Homo sapiens: one gene and its partners. The protein of the gene in region 6 interacts with the protein of the main gene of each other region in a pairwise test. Each region holds a gene or a part of one and is shown on either strand. Other genes may lie near its edges.

The links.
Region 1: the proteins of TRIM37 (region 6) and UBASH3A interact in binary tests that used the Homo sapiens proteins (3 or more experiments, as listed by UniProt).
Region 2: the proteins of TRIM37 (region 6) and RXRB interact in binary tests that used the Homo sapiens proteins (3 or more experiments, as listed by UniProt).
Region 3: the proteins of TRIM37 (region 6) and CWF19L2 interact in binary tests that used the Homo sapiens proteins (3 or more experiments, as listed by UniProt).
Region 4: the proteins of TRIM37 (region 6) and KIAA0408 interact in a two-hybrid assay, tested with the Homo sapiens proteins (one large-scale study listed by BioGRID and IntAct).
Region 5: the proteins of TRIM37 (region 6) and RIBC2 interact in a two-hybrid assay, tested with the Homo sapiens proteins (one large-scale study listed by BioGRID and IntAct).
Region 7: the proteins of TRIM37 (region 6) and COPB1 interact in binary tests that used the Homo sapiens proteins (3 or more experiments, as listed by UniProt).

The regions. Positions count from the first base shown.
Region 1 is NC_000021.9:42,427,902-42,431,401, forward strand, and holds part of UBASH3A (ubiquitin-associated and SH3 domain-containing protein A), read left to right. Parts: intron 1-3,500. UniProt on the Homo sapiens protein: Interferes with CBL-mediated down-regulation and degradation of receptor-type tyrosine kinases. Promotes accumulation of activated target receptors, such as T-cell receptors, EGFR and PDGFRB, on the cell surface.
Region 2 is NC_000006.12:33,195,377-33,197,665, forward strand, and holds part of RXRB (retinoic acid receptor RXR-beta), read right to left. Parts: intron 1,231-2,289; coding exon 1,058-1,230; intron 661-1,057; coding exon 531-660; intron 327-530; coding exon 194-326; intron 91-193; coding exon of another isoform or gene 79-90; coding exon 1-78. UniProt on the Homo sapiens protein: Receptor for retinoic acid. Retinoic acid receptors bind as heterodimers to their target response elements in response to their ligands, all-trans or 9-cis retinoic acid, and regulate gene expression in various biological processes.
Region 3 is NC_000011.10:107,325,860-107,328,825, reverse strand, and holds the end of CWF19L2 (CWF19-like protein 2), read left to right. Parts: intron 1-1,772; coding exon 1,773-1,916; 3' UTR 1,917-2,466; downstream 2,467-2,966.
Region 4 is NC_000006.12:127,452,890-127,456,389, reverse strand, and holds part of KIAA0408 (uncharacterized protein KIAA0408), read left to right. Parts: intron 1-2,288; 5' UTR 2,289-2,408; coding exon 2,409-2,543; intron 2,544-3,500.
Region 5 is NC_000022.11:45,412,545-45,416,492, reverse strand, and holds the start of RIBC2 (RIB43A-like with coiled-coils protein 2), read right to left. Parts: upstream 2,801-3,948; 5' UTR 2,607-2,800; coding exon 2,478-2,606; intron 2,416-2,477; exon of another isoform or gene 2,267-2,415; intron 2,172-2,266; coding exon 2,090-2,171; intron 1-2,089. Other genes in the region: SMC1B (structural maintenance of chromosomes protein 1B), read left to right, coding at 2,926-3,034. UniProt on the Homo sapiens protein: Microtubule inner protein (MIP) part of the dynein-decorated doublet microtubules (DMTs) in cilia axoneme, which is required for motile cilia beating.
Region 6 is NC_000017.11:59,096,881-59,100,380, reverse strand, and holds part of TRIM37 (E3 ubiquitin-protein ligase TRIM37), read left to right. Parts: intron 1-3,500. UniProt on the Homo sapiens protein: E3 ubiquitin-protein ligase required to prevent centriole reduplication. Probably acts by ubiquitinating positive regulators of centriole reduplication.
Region 7 is NC_000011.10:14,475,812-14,479,311, reverse strand, and holds part of COPB1 (coatomer subunit beta), read left to right. Parts: intron 1-2,296; coding exon 2,297-2,393; intron 2,394-3,366; coding exon 3,367-3,500. UniProt on the Homo sapiens protein: The coatomer is a cytosolic protein complex that binds to dilysine motifs and reversibly associates with Golgi non-clathrin-coated vesicles, which further mediate biosynthetic protein transport from the ER, via the Golgi up to the trans Golgi network.

The DNA of each region.
Region 1 (3,500 bases), on a different chromosome or scaffold from region 6:
GTGCCTCCAAAATTCCTATCTCGAAGTCCTAACCCCCAGTCTCACTGAATGTGATTGTATTTGTAGACAAGGCCTTTAAAGAGGTATTTAAGGTTAAATGAGGCAACACAGGTGATGCAATCTGATCCAATCTGACTGCTGCCCTTATAAGAAGAGGGGATGAGGAAACAGACACACAAGAGGGATGGCCCTGTGAGGACACAGGGAGGGGACACCACCGGCAAGCCCCAGAGAGAGGCCTCAAAAGGAACCAGCCCTGGCAACACCATCATCTCTGACCTCCAGCCTCCAGGACTGTGGGAGAGTAAACTTCTGCTGTGGAAGCTAAACAGTCAACCCACACGCAGCGTCCCTGTCGCCATTTGCACCTCCTGGCAGCTGGTGCAAATCAGCCCAAAGCTAAGTGGCCTTGGCAGGTCTTTGCAGCCTTGGTGGCTAGGTGAGGAGGCCTTTTCTTGAGAAATCAAGAATGTGTCTCTGAAGCTGGGTCCATGAGAAATGGCGATCAGCGTTCACCATGTGAGAAAGGCCCAGACTTGGGAGAGCCGAGACTCCCCAGGGCTGTGGCCTGGGGATTATTTAAAAAGCTTTAAATGTTTTTAATAAGGACTTTCAGCTATTTAAAAAGATTGAGCTAGTACCATGGATTCCAACAACCCTATCATCTGGAGTAAAACAGAGACCATTCTGTTTTACTCAGCCTAGTGACTTAAATGTTAATCTCATTTTTAAAAAATACCTTCACAGTGACATCTAAAATAACATTTGACCCAATACCTGGGTACTGTGGAGAAGTACCCAGGTATTGGGTAGGGGGAGAGCCTGGAATGGAAGTCTCTGCTCGTAGCTCAGCCTGTGTCTAAACCGTGCTTTCAATGGCTGAAAACAGAACATGCATCTGCCTGTGAACTGGCCCCCCTCACACGGTCTTCTCTATAGGGATTTCACCCCTTCCCTACAGTAAGAAAAGACAACTGGCCACAGGTCTGGTAGAATCATGGCCCCAGAGATGATGCCCTAATCCCGGGAACTTGTGCATGTGACCTTATTAGGAAAGAGAGTTTCTGCAGATGGGATTGAGTGGAGGGTCTTGAAATGAGGAAATGATCCTGGGTCATCCAGGAGGGCCCTAAACCCCATCACAAGTGTGCTGATGAGAGAAAAGCAGAGGGGATCTGATACAGCAGCAGAGGAGGCCATGCAGCCAGAGAGGCAGAGACTGGAGCAATGTGGCCACAAGCCAAGGAACACCTGGGGCCACCAGGAGCTGGAAGAAGCAAAGAATAAATTCTCCCCTAGAATGTCAGAGGGAGCATGGCCCTGCCAACACCTTGACTTTGGACTTCCAGCCTCCAGAGCTGTGAGAGAATAAATGTCTCTTGCTTGGCACCGCCCAGCCTGTTATGGCAGCCCCAGGACACCAATGCAGCACCTTCTGTCTAGAGAATTGGTGCAGCCCTGCCTCATTCCATAGATCCCAGGGGTCAGTCCATTCCACTCCCCACAGGGCTTTCTTTTGCTTTATCATCATATTCCTGTGGCAAAGCTCCACAGAAGAACATTTAAAATGCTCTGAGCTCTTCCAGGAAGAAAATACCCCAAATCCAAAACTTCAGCCCGCAAGTTGAAAACTTCAGGGACTTTGTTACTAGGCAGAATGAGTTTCCAAGAGCATGCATGCTTTGCAATCTACTTGCAGATCAGCTCTCTACAGCTCTCTAGGATGTTTTAATATTCATTCTGGGATAGGGGCGGTGGGTGCTGCCTCTTGGTGTCAGTGTAGGCAACCTCTGCATAACCACACTTCACATGCAAGAGAGCAAGACAGCAAGACAAACCTTCCCCTGAAGCTGTTCCCCAGGAGATGCATGTTTCTATCCTGAAACAAACAACTGAAGTTTTCCAATAAGGGAAAGCAATACTATTCACTTGGCCTTACCGTATATCCGTTTTGAAGACTCAGCCCAGTGACCCTAAGAAAGTGTTTGCATGGTGACTGCAAACGTTCTCACTGGCTCACCAATCCCATAGTTTATGCACCTACCAAATGTAGCCAGGGCCACCGAGAACTGTCTGGTCCTGATAAATTTCAGCAGCTGGAAATTCTGCATCGTCCGGGCCAGCGTGGACTTCACAAGGGATCCACAGGATCTGGCAGGAGCTGCCCGTGGTGCTGACCCCGAGAATGCTTTCAAGGCAGGTGAAATTGGCCCCCACCCTACTTTCTGGTGTCCCTTCCTTCCCAGTAGTTTCCAATCACTTCCCTAGGTACAGGGACACCACGGGGGACCACTCTTGCCAGAGCGAGTGGCCAGTTAGTGCAGACCCTTGAGACTGGATCACTGTTCACAGAAGAAAGTCCAGACAGGAATGATCAGCTGCACTGGCCAGGTGGAAAATGAGTCCCTTCCTCCCTGAGGGTGTTTGGATGTTAAAGCCATTTGCATTTTCCTCTCTAGGATTTGGAGGGAATCAGGGCGATGCTGGGGCTGGTGTATGAGGGTTTATGCAGACAAGGCTTACCTCTCCTCACCTCTCTTCCTTACCCTGCTCAGTAGGAAAACACACACAAGAGCTGCCCTCTCATTTTAGCCCAGAGAGAGCTGTGTGGCCAAGAGGGAGCAGGGCAGGGATAGTGCCTGTCTGAGCTGCCTCCTGCCCAGGGGTCCTCCCTACCCCGTCCATCCCTGGTCGCCTGGGCTCCAGGCAGGATTTGGTCCCCAGAAGGCCCCACAGCCCACCTCCCGTGGCAGGCCGTGTTCGCTCTGCCCCCACCATCTCTGTTAATGACTCATCTTTCCATGTTCATCCCTTGGCCCAGGGAGACCTGCAGCTCCCTAAAGCAGGGATGCTGTGGACTGCAGCTTCATGGACCAGCATGTGACATGCTCCCCCCTGCGGTGCCATGTCACAGGGAGGTTGAGGCATGAGTCCTGGGTGCCAGAGGGCAGCACCACTGGGCCTGTGTTGCTGCAGGGTTCCCCACCTCTTGCTCTGAAATGGACCCCCCTGGATAGCCTGGGCCTGGCTCTGGGGCTGGGAATGTAGGTGAAGGGCCGATGTCAGCTGGCACATTAGTGCCCTCCAGGGAAGCAGCCGAGCCTGGTGTCTCCCTCCAGGGTCCTGGTGCAGGGCTTATGCTCCACGCAGCTGTCCTGGTGGCCTCTAGCTGGCTCGGCCCCTAGCACTCTGCTCTCTGGTCCCAGGGGGGGCATCCTCAGCTCTCATTCACTCTCTTCATCTCATTTGCTGTGGGTTCCTCTCAAGGCCAGTCCCTCAACTTGATCAGCCCTGCACAGCATGGGGAGAAGGGTGGCCTAGCCCCTGAGGACAGAGCCCCCCACAACACCATCCCACACAGTGGAGGCCCCTCCCAAAGGGTAGCCAGCCTCGCTGCCCCAAGCATGACCTTTGGGCTACTTCCCCAAAGCACAGGCTCCCCAGAAAGAGGGCGGGCGTGAGCCCTGTAACTGCAAGGCTCCAAGGCCATCCTGCGGCTG
Region 2 (2,289 bases), on a different chromosome or scaffold from region 6:
ATGATTGCCCTCAGGCAGCCAAGCTCTGTCTTGTCCATCCTCATGTCACGCATTTTGGACACTAGCTCTGTCAGCACCCTGGAGAGGGACCTGCAGGTCACTCAAAGGTCACAGCTCAGCCAGCCTTGGACACGGACCAGCCTATAGCCCCACCCCCTCTATCTACATGCCAGCCTAGCCGAGGGCCACTGACCGATCAAAGATGGCTCCTACTCCTGCTGAATGGGCTGAGTTGCGGTGCACGTGAAGACCTGTGGCAAGGAGGATGCCATCTCGAACATCAATGGATCGGTGTGAGAAGGAGGCAATGAGGAGTTCATTCCAGCCTGGGTGGGGCAGCAAGGGTCAGGAGCCAGAAATCAGGCCAAGGGATTCAAAGCACATCAGTGGAAGAGAAGGAGAAAAGAGGTGGCGAGGTCAGCAAGTTTGGCTCCCTGGGTACGCAAGGTAAGGCCACTGGGGTCACTAAAGATCGGGAAGTCAAAGAGGGGTCAAATGTCAAGAAGTCAAAGGGATCCAAGGTCACTGACCTGCCCGCAGCAATATGACCTGATCATCCAGAGGCAAGGAGGAAAAGTGTGGGATCCTCTTCGCCCACTCAACAAGCGTGAATAGCTGTTTGTCAGCTGCCTGACAGATGTTAGTCACAGGGTCATTTGGCTGCAGGGGACGGGGGTAAGAGTTATGGAAGATTTTGAGATATGCTGGGAGCCCCCTTGTAAGAGGCTTTTGACACCCCCTCCTTACATATAGTCTTCCTGTGAGCCCCATCCAAACCAATCCCTGTAAGTGAGTCTTCTCTTCTGGCATTAGTGCAAACAATTATTTATTTGGGACATGCCTATGGTTCTGCCAGTGGGTTGTTTGGGGAGTGGAGACAGAAGGAGCTATCACATCCACCTCAGATGTTTGAAAGACCTTGTTTGGCAGCACCTCCAGTCCCAAGTAGTGTTAGGAAGGTTATGAGGGGAAAGGAGGGGGAGGGGATGTAGAACAGACCTAGACTGCCTCCCCCAACCCCCATCACGAAGGAGAGTGGATTGACCCCAACACTCACGCTGCTGCCGCTACCCCCGGTTCCCCCAGGACCCTCAACGCCCTGGTCACTCTTCTGTTCCACAGCAAGCTCTGCCTCCAGGATCCTGTCCACAGGCATCTCCTCGGGGGCTCCCCCAGCCCCCTCCCCATCCCCATCCTTGTCCTTTCCCCGCTGACGCTCCTCCTGTACCGCTGCAGGGGGAAGGGGGAGAGAAAAAATGGAAAGTCAGCAGCCAGCCATGAAGGGGTTCCACAAATATCCTTACGGCCTCATCAGGATCTCATGGCCCTTGGGAGATATTTATAGGAATTGGGGAAGTCACTAGAAAGGGTGGACTGGGGGCAGCCCTGAAGGAAGGGTTATAAAAGGGCAGGTAAGTCAGTCGGGAAGGGTGAGGTAGGTAAAAGAATTAGGGAGGAATTTAAATGGAGAGCCTACTACATGGTTAAAAAAAACATGCCAAGATTCAACCTGAGAAAGCTGATTGAAAAAAAAAATTTTTTTAAATAAAATATGCCAAGAAACATGCTAAGCACATTTTACCATTCACTCAATTATCATAATGATGCTGGAAGCATTTATTCTCATTTTTAAGATGAAGAACTCGGGGTTCAAAGAGATTAGTTTGCTTAAATTCATATAATACATGGCAGGTCATACAACTGACTCTAAGTGTGTCTGAGTGCAAATCTTGTGCTCTTCTGACTCAACAAATAGGCAGTGAAAGGAGCACTGGCCTAGGTCTTTGAAGATGTGGGTTCTGATCCCAAACCTGCCTGCCACTCCTTTGTTGCATGACCTTGGGAAAGCCAAGCCTCAGGCTCATCTTCTCTAAAGTGGGTGTTTTGACCAAGATATGCTCTAAAGTGTCTCTCAGAATCCTAGGAATCTGACTTAAGAAGATAAGATGGAGACACAGAAGAAGGAAGGGAAGCCCTGAGGTCTTCAGTAAAGTCTGTAAGCTTAAGAGTGCCCAGTCCCAGGAGTTAGAGGAAAGATCACAGATAACAGGAGACAGAGACCAGAGAAGGTCCATGGAATCAGAGGAGGAACCACTCAGGTTAGAAATGGGGAGACAGCCCATCATGGCTAAGGAAAAGTTATCCTATCCTAGGATCAGTCTAGGGAGGGGTCATATGTGCAGGCCACAGAGGCCTAACCATTAAGAAGGAAACTCAAGGGCCAGAACAGGGTAACAGGGAGGAGAGCTGCGAAGGGAGAGAGAAATCAAATATCGCCCTCTAGAGGAG
Region 3 (2,966 bases), on a different chromosome or scaffold from region 6:
TTTCACTGTTCTGAAAAATCCTGTTGTTATACAGTAGAGCTTTATAACCAAAAGCTCTATGGCTGGATTTATTAAAAACAAAAACAGAAAAACAAAACAAAACAAAAATTTGGTCCTAGAAAAAAGGAAGTAAAATATCCATTTTTAAAAAGTTGTATATATTAAACTGGGAGATTGCCCTTTCTTCACATATTATTCATGCATTCTGGTTTATATGATTCAGTTTTGGAGTTAAAAGTAAATTTTCTCTGTCAGCATTGCGTCACTGAGCCATTTTCCTCAAAATTTGCTTTTTAAGAAATAGCCTGTGGGCTCAAGACCTCCCTGCAGTCTGCTGCTGAAGCAGTTGTTCAGAGAGCAAGAAGAGATTATGGGGATAGTCTTTCCATTAACAGCTGCTTTGATAACAGAACAAGAGTCAAGCTTATATGGTAGATGTAAGACAAAACTTGGTATTTTATAGACAATTTTAGGTAAACTTTTATAAGCTAGGCTTTCTTAAACTACATTGCTTATTTGGACCGATGCTGAGAAACTCTTGAACTAAATCTCAATTTGCCCTATTTCTCTTTTCTACTATCTCTGTTGACCCCTTTATTTCCCTTCCCTGATGACAGGAGATTCCCTTTTCCATGAAGCATCTCCTGGTCTGGCCAACAAATAGATTGTTTTTTTTTTTTTTTTTTTGAGTCTCCACAAATGGTCTGCTTTGACACTTACCTTCTACTTTATGAGACAGTCTGCTGCATAGCTGGATTATTATTCCTCCCACCACAGCTCCAGATTCTATTCTGTCTGAAGACAACTGTGTGTCTTCACCCCACAATCTCTGTATCCCCTACAACATACGGCATTTGCTTCTGCATAGTAGGTCCCTAAGTAAGATGAAGAACCTGCATCTGAAAGATTATGTGGTTTGTGCAGGATCTCACCACACAGTCTGGTGGAGCTAGACCGACTATGCAGAATTTGATCCTTAGTCTGTTTTTTGTTGTTGTTGTTTTGTTTTTTGTTTTTTGCTTTGTTACCATACTGCCCTCCCTCTAAGCATTTAAGCATTAGGAGGCTCCCCCATGTCTTTCTGTTCATGGATACTCACATGCCTAAATTTGATTTATTTCTATAGCTAACAGCACAGGAAGAGGATCATGAAGGAAATCAAGAATAATAATCAGATAACCAAAAAGCCATTTATTATGGGACTTGAGAATGTGATTTTTTAAATGAAAGTGATATATAATTTTTAATTCTATCAATAGGTTTACTTAAACTAGTATTACAATAGGATTTTGTTTCATGAAAAAAGATTTCTGCTAATAGTGGAAGAAACTAATTTATAAATATACTTGGTAGCAGAGAGAGAACATTAGCTTGGGATTCAACTGCAGTTGAGCAGTAAAGTTAATAATTGCTAGAAGTTGATTAACATTTTTGCAAAATTGTTTACGGGAGCCTCTAATAGAGATCATATTAATTAAATTTCACTTGTTTTCCCTCCCCTTTGTTACCATCTAGTAGATGTGCTAATAAGCAACAAAATGGACAAATTGCTTGATAGGAGATGCAGCTAACTTGGACTCTTAGAATCACACGGTTTGCCTAGTTAGAATTAACTGAAAACATATTTTTTTAACTTCAACTAGTATTTATGCTTGAACATTGTCATGGAGAAGAACTTGTTATATTTTATAGCAGAATAAACAGAAATAGTTTCATTTCTGTTTTCATTATTTATACATGCTTGTGTTTGTGCTTTTCTCTTTCTTTAAAAGGAAATCATAGGTGGGATGCTGGATATAGAACCAAGACTTTGGAGGAAAGGCATCCGAGAAAGCTTTGAGGATCAGAGGAAAAAAGCACTGCAGTTTGCTCAGTGGTGGAAACCATATGACTTCACCAAAAGTAAAAACTATTGAGGTGTACCTTCCATTTTAAAATTTTTCTTCAGATCCCGTTCAGTTTTATTTCCATTGCATCTAATGAAGCAACTGACCCTCAGGTCACAGGCAGAGAGAGTCACAGCAGCAGACTGCTCTGGGTCAGTGACAACTGTACATCAGGAGATTGTGTTGTTTTCTTCTTCACCTGCTCCTATCTATGGACTTCATTTTAGTCACCATGGAGTAAAAACATATATTCGATGATCTGCTCACATTCCTGCTCTCTACCTACTTCTTGGTATTCCGAATTGTTCAGTTAATTTAGAGAAGGCCTTTTCTGAAGGGATATCTAAAAAGCATAGGAAATCCTTGGTTCAGAGGGAAGTGGGTCTGCTTCATGGTTGTTAAGTCTACTGTCTGGCTTCTTTTGCATTTTTAAAAATAAGACGATTTAATTTTAATTTCATAGGATTTTATAGAAAAGCTCTTAATTTTCTACTAGCAGTATATAGTATCACTTCTATTCTTTTTGTTAAAGGAAAAGGAAATGTCCCCAAAGTATTAAAGAATTAAATGATACTGAAAATTTGTATGATTCAAATTTGTTTTTATTTCTGGATTTTTAAATAGTATCTTTGAATTTTGGTGGTTCTAAAAGTAATTCTTCCAAATAACATATTTTAGGGTTGTTTGGGGTTTGCATGAAAGTTAAAATTTATAGCCAAATCATTGGTTTTGAGTTGTACTGATTGTCGTAAAATCTTAAGTAATGAGAGTTTTTATTTATTTATCTTTTTGTTTTGTTTTTATTTATTAAGACAGAGTCTGGCTTTGTCACCCAGGCTGGAGTGCAGTGGCCCAATCATAGTTCACTGTAGCCTTGAACTCCTAGTCTCAAGCTATCCTCCTGTTTCAGCTTCCCAAAGTGCTGGGATTGCAGGTATGAGCCACCATGCCTGGATGAGAGTATGGGACATTCTGTTGTCCCTTACTTGATCCAAGGAACGTAATTTTTATTTGTTCTCAACTCACACCATAGTCATATTTTGTAAGTATAGGGTTTTTATGTTTTGAGTGCTCCTACTT
Region 4 (3,500 bases), on a different chromosome or scaffold from region 6:
GCATCTTTCAACAGTAGCATGGAAGCGATTCAAGAAGAGTTAGGAATAGAAGGAAAAATTGGAGCCATTTGCTACATAATTGTAGAAAAGACTTTATGGTGATTTCTGAACATTTCCAATGTTTAAAGACAGTTGGGATAAAACATGGATTTATCATAGCTCCTCTTTTCCAGGTAGCTTGAAATTAGTCTGCATCCTTTTTTAGTTTCTTTGGTTAAATCTGCATTTATCTCTTATTATCTCAAACCACACCATTCTTCCTAAGAAGTTCCAGTGGCAAATACTTTCTAGTCAGCAAGGTAGTTTCACCACACAGTTAATTACGTATAGTTTTAAAGCAGTCTGCTAGTTTCAAGACAGGCACTGTCTGCATTTCCTATGAAGAATTGTTAGACGAACCTAAAAGATTACTAGGTATTCAAGATCAAGATCAATGGAAATTAGATTAGCCAAAACAAACAAAAACCAAAACTCTGTATGTTCTTTACCATCTTTATTTTATTTGTTCTTCACTGACATTTATTATGGCAAGTACTTGTGGTTACTGGTTTATATGTGGGAAAGATAGCAAAGAAAGGGGTGACAGAGGAGGTGGAGAAATGAGGTCAGAAATTGAGCATGGCCAAATGGATAAAATGAGATATGATAGCACCTTTAATAGCCAGATATGAAATTATGTATTTTTCGTGACTGAATTAATCATAATAGTGCTAGTGCCAAAGACATAGGAAAAAATTATCAAAATATCTTTAGTAAATAGTTTGAGAGTAAAGTAACAATATAGATCCCAAAATTATTAGGGTGTTTTGAAGGTAGAACCCTGCATATATAGCTAACATTTTTCATTTCTTATTCTATTCTAATTCATTGATCGTGACTCAAAAAATACAGATTCAAAACTGTTTACTAGTCAGATATGTATGTTCACAACAGTCTGACAAAAATAAAATTAGTGTTCGATATTTAGCTGATATTTAGGATTTGAAATATGCAGTTATCTTCTGTGAATACAAAATTGGCACTTGCTGCTTGGGTATGTGGCCTTAATTCGGCAGTGCCAGCACCCACAAAGCTATTGACTGTTGGGATCTTTGTCCGTAATTAGCATTAGCTGCCACCAGTAAGTTATAGCATTTTGATAATGGCTTAGTGACTGAAGAGTTAGACATCTTATAGGCATAATTATCTTAAACAGAGATTCAAACATTTTAAACATGCTTTTCTACCCCCTAAAAAGGCACATGACTTATTTAATACAAAATTATTTTTAATTGAAGTCACAATGAAATTTTGTAAAGCAAAAAATAGAAAACTTTCTTAAATTTCTCAAACTACTTTGCATTCAGTATGCCATTTAATCTTTTTAACAGTTCTATGACTATCCCCATTTTAATGCAAAAAACTAAATCCCAGAAATTTTAGACTTATACCAGTTACATAGCTGGTATTTTAAATTCTGACTTCAAACCTTAAGTACACGTCCCTGAAGGCTAGAAAGTTAATTATTTCAGTCACTACTTAATGTAATAGAGGATTCCCTGAAAACTGAGCAAAATGTTTTCTTCAGTTCCCTGTATTCAATATCCTAAGCAGTTTATGGTATATAGCCTATTCAAAGGAAAAGAGAGCATGGATAAATTTTAACGTATATTTCACAGGATAGTTTTGATGCTTCTAGATTTTCCTTGATGAAGTGACATAATGAATATATTTTTTATAATTTAGATTAGTTTCTGGATGATACATCAGTCCTAAGTTGACTACCAACTTTGGGGTCTTCATAAGTAACACAGTAATGACATTTGGCACAGGCTTGATCTCTGAATATAGAATTAAGACTGCAAACCAGCTCTGTTTCAGGAATTTAAGTCATAAGAATATATAATCAGGTTGCATCAGAACAGAAAGAATAATTTTATTGCAGCAGAATCTGTCACAGTGTGTAGATGTGAGCATACATTTGAATTGTATACTTACACTCTTATTCATGAAAAAATCTATTTTTAGAGTAAGTGGTTAAAGGGATGATTACATCTCACATGCGCATTTAATCATCTTGTCCACTATAATTTTGCTGTCTGGTCTCAGAAAGGGAAAAAAACTTTGGACAATACTTATTACTTTATTGACTGTGTTAGTTTCTTCTTCTTAAGTAGACTGTTGTCATCTCTTTTCTTTTGAGTCCAATTTTCCTATAGTTTGTTTATGTCAATGGCTCGACAAAATGATAAAATATATTTCCAGAAAGCACATGGATTTGGAACTCTCTCTTGTTATGTTTATATTAGGCTTTATTTTAAAGGCAAGTGAGACTGCTTCAAATAAAACAACTTCAAGCTTCCAAGAAACAGTTAAGAGGAGGCAGAGAAGAGCAGAAACACTTCTTTGCTGACACTTACACTGTTGCCATGGACCTACATAAGCAGTGGGAGAACACAGAGACTAACTGGCATAAGGAAAAGATGGAATTACTGGACCAGTTTGACAATGAAAGAAAGGAATGGGAAAGTCAATGGAAGATTATGCAGAAGAAAATAGAAGAGGTACACTTTAATTTGTTTTGGATATACTGTAATGTTTAAGTGCAGGATGAAAATTCTGTGGGCTGTTTTGTATTGGAAACTGTTTTTGATTTCCTTATTCGACCTAAGAGGTACATTTCTCAGTGACATTTACTAGAACAAAAATAGCATAATCTTATCCAATGGTATTGTAAGGATTATTTTATATCATTGCATGAAAATTAAGCATTTGAAATGTCACTCTATAATGTTTCAACTTATTATTTTCTGGCTAGAGAGCTTTTTTATCAAAAGTGAGGTATGTATTTTGCATGAATTTTCAAATACCAGGTCCAGGAGTAAAATGCAAGAAAGATATACTTGGTGGGACATAGATTAGCAAAATTATAGTTGGGCATTAGAACATAGATCTTTCCTAAGAAGATTTATGAGTAATGTCTATTAAAGGAAATTACATGTTAGATAATGCAGTATAATCAAAAGGAGTATCATATATCAAACAGAAAATGGCAGTAGACATGAGATTTATTCTATCAAGGTGTGCACATTTAGTGGCATATTTATTGGAAAAGGAGTTATGAAAAATGACATATCACGACTCTGACACAGTCATTTTGTTCCCGTTAACCCTCCCTCAGTCCGTTGACCCTGAAATATTTCCTTCAAGCATTTGCATTGATGTATATTCAAGCTTTTGCACCAATTGGAAATAATTTATGCTTATCTTGCTTTCTTTTGGTAACATCCTTAGTATTGACTTTATATGGTTTTATGCACATTACCAAAGTTGTTATTTTAAGACTTCTTGGCCTTTTTTGCAGGCAAAGTAAGTGCTTTATGTGTTTATAGTACAGTCATGTTTCTTATTAACAGCCATGTAATTGACTGTGAATAAAATATGAATTGGCATAGTAGGAAGAAAGCTGAAGAAAAGTAACTATTAAGCCCTTCCTCTAAAATAGAGCTGAGAAGGCAGGC
Region 5 (3,948 bases), on a different chromosome or scaffold from region 6:
AGACTCCATCTCAAAAACAAAACAAAACAAAACAAAAACCTCTCATTTGCTGCTTGTAGGAGTGTAACTTGGTACACTTACAACGAAACAATTTTTCAATATCCCATAAAACTACCTTTGATCCATCAATTCCACTTCTAGTTATCCCTTTCACATGTGCTAGGGACACAATTCTTGGACAGTCATTGCAGCAGTGTCCACAATGACAAAACAACTGAAAAAAAAAAATCTAAACCAGCCATCAGTATGGGAATGGATGAAGAAACTGTAGTTAATTCATATAACAAAATGCCATAAAACAATTAAAATGAATACTCTCTATATGTAAATCACTGATTAATTTCAAAAATACAAGCCTGGATGAAAGAAAAGCATACTGCAAATGGATCTATTCAATAGGATACCATTTACATAAATTTTAAAAACACATAAAAACAATTTTATATTGTTATGAATACATACATAAATAGTACAAGCATAAATAGTGCGTGGGGGCTGGGCCTGGTGGCTCATGCCTGTAATCCCAACACTTTGGGAGGCAGAGGCGGGAAGATCACCTGAGGTCAGGAGTTCGAGACCAGCCTGGCCAACATGGTGAAACCTCGTCTCTACTAAAAATACAAAAATCAGCCCAGCATGGTGGTGTGCACCTGTAATCCCAGCTACTCGGGAAGCTGAGACAGGAGAATTGCTTGAACCCAGGAGGCGGAGGTTGCGGTGAGCTGAGATCGCGCCACAGCTCTCCAGCCTGGAAGACAGAGCAAGACTCCATCTCAAAAGAAAATAGAAAAAAAAGCATGGGAATGATAAACACTTCTGAGGAGAAAGGAGGGGAAAATTAAGAGGTAGGGGGCAGGGCAGTGTTGTTATATATATATATATATATATACACATATATAAAAAACACAATTCTCAAAAAACACTGAAGATATCTGAAGCCAATCTGGCAAAATGTTAACATCTAGTCTGATGGTGGGTACATATGTACCTGTCACATTGTTTTTGTAAGATTGAATTACCTCATAACTAAAAATATTAATAAAAAAGATAAAATGTTTAGAACATACAGAACAGTATAAAGGAGAAAATAAAGTTTACTCATAATTCTATCCCTCCAACATTACCCTGCTAACATTTTGGCATATTTCCTCTCTTCTTCTTCTGAGCATATTTTAAAATATTTTAAAAACATAACAGCCCATTGTATGTACAATTTTGTATCCTGCTTTTTTTTCTATTATAAAAATCTTTATGGTGTTTAAAAACACTGAAATTTCTTTTTTTTTTTTTTTTCAATTTATTTTTTGTAGAGATGGGGTCTCGCTTTGTTGCCCAGGCAAGTCTGGAGCTCCTGGTCTCAAGTGATCCTCTAGTTTTAGCCTCTCAAAGTGTGAAATTTCAACAATTGTTGAAATTGTTGGACACGATAGGGGAAAATAAGTTGTATTTGAAGTGGAATAATAATACCTTGAATAACAGTATTCAAGGTACTTGAATACTATGATTTGAATCATGTCTGTCTCTGAGTCAGCTTGAGGGTGTGAGCCCGGACATATGTGTTGTCTGGTATAAACAGCTGTCCTTCATAGACGGTCTTAAACTTTTGAGCAGAGCAAGTGAGTGTGTGTGTGTGTCTTTCTGTGTTTAAGGCTTTTCCTATCCAGTTTTTTAAGAAAATGAAGGAAAACATACATATACCCTTAAAATCTATTTCTTATAATCCACATTCGAATTCAATAGCTGTTTTTAAGAGAAGAATCAGTGCATTAAGTTAACTGGGCACAAGAAATTGTGAAATTTAAAAGGAAGAAGAGTGTGAAAATGACAACTTTTTATATATGTGAAGAAAGGAGGGCTGGGTACCGTGGCTCATGCCTGTAGTTCCAGCACTTTGGGAGACTGACGTGGGAGGATCACTTGCACGCAGGAGTTCCAGACCAGCCTGGGCAACATAGTGAGACCCTATCTCTATTAAATAAAAAAAATAAAAAATAAAAAAAAAAAGGCGGGGCAGGGGGACGGTGGGGAAGACTGGAGTCTAAAGCCACACAATCCTAAACCAATAGATAAGCATTCAGGAAATGCTCACCAAAGGTTTCATGTCTAGCTTTTTCAGTAGCTTCTTTTATCTTCTGGTCATGAACTTGAACATCCCAGGCTTCAGTGTCTCCCTATAAATGGAAAAACAGAGGAGAAGGGTTAGAGCCAGATCATTTTATTCAGTAATAACAATCCTACTTATTATTATTTTTAATCTCTGCCCCACTGTAAACGAGTTGTAGAAAATCTGGCTCAGGGGAGGAGAACCGTTGGTGACTCCAGGCGAGCTCGAGAGGGAGCATTATTGGCCCTGCAGGAGGCCGTTTGCTGCCTCCTGGCTCAGATGTTTCATCCTAGAACTCATCTCCTTTCCCCCTCCACGCAGCCCCTCGCCCGCATCTGCCGCTCTAACCCCGTCCCGGCCCCTGCCCTTTCACCCCAATTATCCTGTTTCTGGCGTTGAAGACCCGCTTCTGCCTGCACAGCTCCGCGTGCCTCCTCTTTGCCAGGTTGGCGTCCTGCCGCAAGTCCCTGGGCAGCGCCACCGCCATGGTCTGGGAACCCATGGAAAGCCTAAGGGGTTTTTAGAACACGCAGGATCAGGAGAACAGGCGACGAAAATAAGGAAGCTGTAGCGCAGGCAAGGTCGGCTCCTTCGGTCGGGCAGGGGAAAGACAAGCCTTTAGCGCAGTTTTCCGTCGGGCTCCCAGTGACGCCGCAGAGGTACAGACGCTCCCGCTCTCTCGGAAATGTCAACAACTCGTTGCTAAGGAACGGCTCCGCGCTTGCCGCGTCTCGCTCTCTTCTCGCGACACTTGGCGAATCCCTTCCCGCGCTTTTTCCGCGGGCGCTTGATAACGCGGGTGAGGCGTGGAGGGCGGCGCCATGGCCCACCTGGAGCTGCTGCTTGTGGAAAATTTCAAGTCGTGGCGGGGCCGCCAGGTCATTGGCCCCTTCCGGAGGTTCACCTGCATCATCGGCCCCAACGGCTCTGGTAACTGAGCAGCTCAGGGCGCCACCGGAGCGCCTCCGCCGTCCCAGGCGTCCAGGCCACACGTGGCCTGTGGGGTGTGGGCGTCTGCCGCGGGCGCCTGGCCGGCCTTCCCCTTCCAGTCCCGGAGCCTGACCGCGACCGGATCCCGGCCTGGCCCTGGCCCAGCCCCTGCCCATCACCCCACCTCAGCCCCGGTCCTCGCCGTCCACCTCAGGGGTCCCGACCCTTGTCCCTCCGCCCCACCTCGGAGGTCCTGACCCTTCCACTCGGCCCCGCCTCGGGCCCCGCTCTCGCCCTCCACCTCCTGGCTCCCGACCCTCCTCCGACACCCTGAGGGACCCCACCCCACCTCAGCTCCGGCCCTCGCCCTTCATCTCAGGGGCTCCCAACCCTCGCCCCCCACCCTGGGGGTCCTGACGCTTCCTCTCCGCCCCGGTCCCGCCCTGGGCCCTGTTCTCTGCCCTCACTCCTGCTTCGGGGACTGCTCTTGCCCTTGGCCCTGGTCACTCGCGTCCCTTTTCCCTTCTCATCCGAAGTTGAAGTGAGAGGGAGCTGTCGAGGAGGTAATGGGTTCCAAGCAGCCAGAACCACCATTTGGATCCAAGGGAGCTTTGACCCAGGAATGTAGTGATGATGACCCAGTTTACTGAGCTTTTCCTAAGTTCCTGGCGACACCGTCTTTGGTTAGCCATGGCGCATGGCTGCTCTCCCCATTTTATAGTTGGGGAAACTGAGGTCTGGAGAGGCCAGAGGACCTGCGGAGGTCTCTACTAATAATACCAAAATTAGCTGGGTGTGGTGGCACACGCCTGTAATCCCAACTACTCTGGAGGCTGAGGCGGGAGAATCGCTTGAACCTGGGAGGTGGAAGTTGCAGTGAGCCAAGGACACGCCATTGCACTCCAGCCTGGCAA
Region 6 (3,500 bases):
CAATTTGTTTATGCATTCACCTGTTGATGGGCATATGGCATGTTTACAGTTTTTGCTATTACAGTGAAAATTGCTGCGAACATTCGTGTACAAGAAGCTTTCTTTTCTCTTGGGTAAATAATTAGTAATGGAACGGATAGAGATTATGTGGTAGATGTGTGTTTAACATTTTGAAAATTGCCAAGCTATTTTCTAAAATACTTGTATCTGGGAGCTAAACAATGAGCATACATGGACATAAAGGGGGAAATGCTAGACACTGGGGACTTCAAAAGAGGGAGAGGAGGAGAGGGATGAAGGTTAAATTAAAAAAAGGATTGGGAGGCCGAAGTGGATGGATCACCTGAATTCGGGAGTTCGAGACCAGCTTGACCAACATGGAGAACTCTGTCTCTACCAAAAATACAAAATTAGCCAGGCCTGGTGGTACATGTCTGTAATCCCAGCTCCTTGGGAGCCTGAGGCAGGAGAATCACTTGAATCCAGAAGGCGGAGGTTGTGGTGAGCCGAGATCGCACCATTGCACTCCAGCCTGGGCAACAAGAGCGAAACTCTGTCTCAAAAAGAAAAAAAAGGAAATAGTTTTATAATTTTACATTCTCACCAGAAGTTTATGAGAGTTCCAATTCCTCCACATTAATGCTAACAGTTGGTGTGTTCGGTTTTGTGAATTTTAGCCATTCTCAGGGACGTGTAGCCATTCTTACAGGTATCTCCTTGTTTTAGTTAGCGTTTCTCTGTTGAGTAATGATGTTAGCATCTTTTCCAGGAGTTATTTACCATCCATATGTTGTCTTTGGTAAGGGGTCTGTTCAGTGCCCCCCATTTTGTGCTAAAATAAATATAACAAAATTTTCCATTTTACCCATATTTAAGGGTACAGTTCGGTGTCTTTAATTACATTCATAATGTTATACAACCATATCACTATTTCCAAAATCTTTCATCACCCCAAACAGAAAGTCTGTACCCATTAAAAAAAAAGAAAAAAGAAAATAAACATAAGTAAACATAGAAAAGGTATATTAAAAATACAGTATAAAAGATAAAAAATGGTACACCTATGTAGGGCAGCTCCATTCTAATCTTACGAGACTACTGTAGTATATGCGGTCCATCATTTACCGAAACATCTTTATGTGACACATGGCTATATACCACTTTTTGTTTATCCTTTTTCTTAAGTTTTTTTGTTTTTTGAGACAGAGCCTCGCTCTGTCGCCAGGCTGGAGTGCAATCGTGCGATCTCGGCTCACCACACCCTCCACCTCCGAGGTTCAAGCGAGTCTGCTGCCTCAGCCTCCCGAGTAGCTGGGACTACAGGTGTGCGCCAGTACACCCAGCTAATTTTTGTATTTTTAGTAGAGATGGGGTTTCACCATGTTGGCCAGGATGGTGTCGATCTCTTGACCTGGTGATCCACCCTCCTTGGCCTCCCAAAGTGCTGGGATTACAGGCGTTGAGCCACCGCGCCTAGCCTATTTATCCATTTTTATCTCTTGATGGACACTTGGGTTGTTTTCACTTTTTGGATATTGGATATTGTTAATAGTTCTGTTGTTAACAATTATCTGTTTGAGTTCCTGCTTTCATTTCTTTTGAATATATATCTAGAAGTGAAATTGCTGGGTCATATGGTATTCTGTTAATTTTTTTTTAATTGTGGTAAAATATACCTAATGTAAAATTAGCCTTTTTTTTTTTTTTTTTTTAAATGAGACAGTGTCTCACTCTGTTGCCCACGTTGGAGCACAGTGACACAATCATGGCTCACTGCAGCCTCAATCTCTTGGGCTCAAGCAGTTGGCCTGCTTCACACTCTTGAGTAGCTGGGACCACAAGTGTGTGCCATCGTGCCTGGCTAATTTTTTTATTTTTTGTAGAGACAGGGTTTTACTTTGTTGCCAAAGCTGGCCTCAAACTCCTGGGCTCAAGTGATCTGCCTGCCTTGGCCTCCCAAGTGCTAGGATTACAGATGTGAGCCACTTGGCCCAGCCAAATTTGCAATTTTAACTGTATTTTTAAGTGTACTGTTTAGCGGCATTAAGTACATTCACATTGTTGTGCAGCCATCACCACTATCCACCTTTAGTACTTTTTCATCATCCCAAACTGAAACTCTGTACTTGATAAACAATAAATTCTCATTATTCTCTTCCCCCTAGCCCCTGTTAACCACTATTCTACCTTCTGTCTTTACATTGACTATTCTAAGTACATCATATAAATGGAATCATAAAATATTTTTGTTTATTTCTACCTCTCTATTCTGTTCTATTAGTCTCTATTTCTGTTCTTATGGTAGTACCACACTGTTTTGATTACTGTAGCTTTGTAGTAAGTTTTGAAATTAGGAAGTGTGAGTCCTCCAACTTTTTCAAGATAGTTTTGACTATTTGGCATCCCTTGAGATTCCATGTGAATTTTAAATGCAGTTTTCTACCAATATAAAAAGTACCATTGGAGTTTTAGTAGGGATTACATTGATTCTGTACATGCCTTTGAGTAATATTGCTGTCTTAACAATATTAAATCTTATGATCCTTGAACATGGGTGTCTTTCCATTTATTTAGGACTTCTTTAACTTCTTTGAGCAGTGTATTGTAGTTTTGCACGTATAAGTCTTTCTTTTTGTTTTTTATTGTTTTGAGACAGGATCTCACTGTCACCCAGGCTGGAGTGCAGTGATGCGATCATGGCTCACTGCAGCCTCAACTTCCTGGGTTCAAGAGACCCTCTTGTCTTGGCCTCCCAATGCTGGGATTATAGGTGTGAGCCACCACACTCAGCCTCCATGTATGTCTTTCAAATTCTTGGTTTTTTTTTTCCCTAAGCATTTTATTCCTTTTGATGCTGTTGCAAATGTGTTATTTTCTTAATTTCGTTTTTAGATTGTTCATTGCAAGCTTATAGAAATGCCAGTGTTTTTTGTGTGTTTGTCTCCTGTAACTGTTGTGTTTATTAGCTTTAACAATATTTTGTGGACTCTTTAGGGATTTTTACAGATAAGATCATGTCATCTGCAAAAAGATAATTTCACTTCTTTTTTAATTAGGATACTTTTTATTTCTTTATCTTGCCTAAGTACTCTGGCTGGAATTTTTAGTACCTGTATTATGTCAAATAGAAATGGTAAAAGCTGGCATCCTTGTCTTTTTCCTGATCTTAAGGGGAATTTTTCCTGATCTTAAGGGGAAGAGTTTTTAGCCTTTGAATCGTTGACTATGATTTTTATGAGTTTTTATATATGGCCTTTATCAAGTTGAGGAAGTTCCCTTCTATTTCTATTGAGTATTTTTATCATGAAAGGATATTGGATTTTGTCAGATGCCTTTTCTGCATCAATTGAGATGATCATAGTGGGGGTTTTCCATGAAGTGGTTTATTACATTGAATGATTTTTGTAGTTGAATCATCTTTCTATTCTAGGAATAAATCCCACTTGGCCACAGTGTATAATTTTTTAAATAGTCTGTTGAATTAGTTTTATTGGGATTTT
Region 7 (3,500 bases), on a different chromosome or scaffold from region 6:
AGAGCATATTTTTAAATGGCATCACTTTTTGGCTATTACTATTATTTATATCTTCCTTTCACATTTAATGAAGAGAAAGATTGAAAATGCAACCTAAATCTGTCTTTCCCTTCAGAGAGCCTTTGCTAATGAGAAAGGACTGTTGCATCTAAATTTTGCTTCATTTAAAGCATCTGATGGATAGTCTCTAACAGACTTGAAATATGTCTCAGGAAGGAAGGGACAAGTACAAAATTGTTTTTATGATATGAAAATATATTAATATTTATGGAAGTGAGCAGAGCAGGATTTGCTTCCTTTGTGAGAAGAAAATCATATTAAGGATTTGCTTTTTTTTTTTTTTTTTTTTTTTTTGTGAGAGGGCTTTCCGGCAAAAACCAGAAAGCCTGCTAAACAAATTTTAAAAGAGCTATGACATTAAGAATTTGTTTTTGACAGCCATAATCTCTTAGAGCTTTGGTTTCTATAATTAAGTTTTTCTGAATAAATTTAATTAAAATCTTAGGGGAAAGATGACTAAGGACTTTATTCAGTTTAACATTTTAAACTAAAGAATTGTTGGCTGGGTATGGTGGCTCACACTTGTATTCCCAGCACTTTGGGAGGCCAAGGCAGGAGAATTGCTGGATGTCAGGAGTTGGAGACCAGCCTGGGCAACATGGTGAGACTTTGTCTCTATTTATTTTTTTAATCTAAATGAATGAATGAATGGTTGCTTTCTTTACTATTATTTTTTTACTGATCCCTTGTACTTCTTCTGTATCCATTGTTCAGTTCAACACCTTGCCTCTTCAGTGACTGAAAATAAAAAGTGAATTACTTTTTACATTAAAATAATACATTCCTGATTTTTTGTTTTTGTTTTTGTTTTGTTTTTACTTTATTTATTTATTTTTTTAAGAGAGATGAGGGCCTTGCTTTGTTGCCCAGGCTGGTCTCGAACTCCTGGACTAAAGCAATCCTCCCACCTCATCCTCCCCAGATGCTGAGATTACAGGTGTGAGCCACAGTGTCTGGCCATAAAATAATACATTTCTTAGAGTAGTAAGAGATTAAGCCAAATTTGCCTTCACTGTGTCCTAAATGGACACTTTACTGGGAAACATTTTGGTATTTTATTTTTACTGCTAGGTTTACCAGTTTTAGAATGTTCCTAATAATAAGAACAGTTATTTTACTTTTAATCTTTGTGATTTCTGGAGAGAACTGAAACCTAGGTTTTGTTAGATTCTTTCTGAAATATTTATCTAAAATACTTTAGAACTGCAGAATCTTGTTGGTTTTTGTTTTTTGTTTTTTTGTTATTGAGACAGAAGCTTGCTCTGTCACCCAGGCTGGAGTGCAGTGGCGCTATCTCAGGGCATTGCAACCTCCGCCTCCTGGATTCAGGCAGTTCTTTTTTTTTTTTTTTTTTTGAGATGGAGTCTTGCTCTGTCTCACAGGCTAGAGTGCAGTGGCGCGATCTCGGCTCACTGCAACCGCCGCCTCTCATGTTCAAGCGATTCTCCAGCCTCAGCCTCCCAAGTATCTGGACTACAGGTGCGTGCCACTGCATCCAGCAAATTTTTTTTGTATTTTCAGTAGAGACGAGGTTTCACCATGTTTGTGAGGCTGGTCTTGAACTCCCAACCTCAGGTGATCCGCCCGCCTCAGCCTCTCAAAGTGCTGGGATTACAGGCGTGAGCCACTGTGCCCGGCCTCAAGGAGCTCTTATGCCTCAGTTTCCTCAATAGCTGGGATTACAGATGTGCATCACCATGCCTGGCTGATTTTTGTATTTTTAGTAGAGATGGGGTTTCACCATGTTGCCCAGGCTGGTTTTGAGCTCCTGGGCTCAAGTGATCCGCTGGCCTCAGCCTCCGAATGTGCTAGGATTACAGGCGTGAGCCACCGTGCCTGGCCCTTGTTTTTTTTTTTTTTTTGAGACGGAGTCTCGCTCTGTCACCCAGCCTGGAGTGCAGTGGCGCGATCTTGGCTCACTGCAAGCTCCGCTTCCCGAGAATGGGTTCCCGCCATTCTCCTGCCTCAGCCTCCCGGGTAGCTGGGACTACAGGCGCCCGCCACCATGCCCGGCTAATTTTTTTGTATTTTTAGTAGAGACGTGATTTCACCATGTTAGCCAGGATGGTCTCGATCTCCTGACCTCGTGATCCGCCCGCCTCGGCCTCCCAAAGTGCTGGGATTACAGGCGTGAGTGCCTGGCCCTTGTTTTTATTTGAGCTTAAATTAACAAAGAAAGATCTCTGCTTCAAGATTTGTCTGCCAAGTTCATGTTTCAGATCTTGTATTGTGCTAGGATTTACCGAGGAGCATTATGGATCCTGGGAGAATACTGTAGTACCAAGGAAGACATTCAGAGTGTGATGACTGAGATCCGCAGGTCCCTTGGAGAGGTATGTTTTACTTTAGTAAATGTTAGTTTATATGGTAATTTTTCCTTTAGGAAAATCTGACTTTTTATAGTGATTTGCTTACATTATTTACACTTCTGAGTTAGATTTTGTTTGAACAAAATGTTCTGTGTTTATTAAAAAAAAAAAAAAAAAAAAGAAGCAGTAGCTTGTAAAATTCTGCTTTAGCCTGTATTCTGAAGGAAGAATGCCTTAGAGTAAGTCTGACTTCAGAATATTTATGCAGTAAAACTGACAGTATTCTTCATCCTAACAACCTTATGGTAGAATAGAAAGAACAGTGGACTAATTATCAGGAGACCTGACAATTAGTTCTAGTCATTGTTGTGTCGACAGTTAGCTGGAGGACCTTGAATATAAGTTCCTCAACCTAACTTGACATCAGTGTTTTTCACCTATAAAATAAATTAAAATAGGTAATGATTAAATACTCTTAGTGCTCTTATATTAGGTAATGGACTGGTATTGAGTAATAAATACATAATAGCCATTCAGTTAATTTAAAAGTTAGTTGATGAGGTTATTATGTACAAATAAGTCGGATTTATTTCATTTTAGAAGGATGAGTACTGTTTTGGTTAAAATTTCAAGGAAAGGAATGAAGAAGAGGAATACGACTTAATGACCATCTGCTTTGTGTTAGACACTGTCCAATGCATTTTTCTATTAGGTAAAATGTGTAGAAAGAATTAAGATTTCCACTTAGCAGATTAAGAAACTGAGGTCCAAAGTAGTAAGTGGCAGAGTGAGAATTCAAACCCTGGAATATCCATCTCTGAAGCCCCTATTCTACCTACTACATTATCCTGGGAAGGAAATAAATTGAAAGCAGAGTTCCCAGTTCCAAAAATCCCATTAGGGTAATGCCTTTTTTAGAGAAACAATCAAATATTTAAAGATAATTTTGCTTGCTGTTGATACTATTACTAAAATGATGTTTCCAATTGACTTTTAGATCCCAATTGTAGAGTCAGAAATAAAGAAAGAAGCTGGTGAATTAAAACCTGAAGAAGAAATAACTGTAGGGCCAGTTCAGAAATTGGTTACTGAAATGGGTACCTATGCAACTCAGAGTGCCCTTAGCAGTTC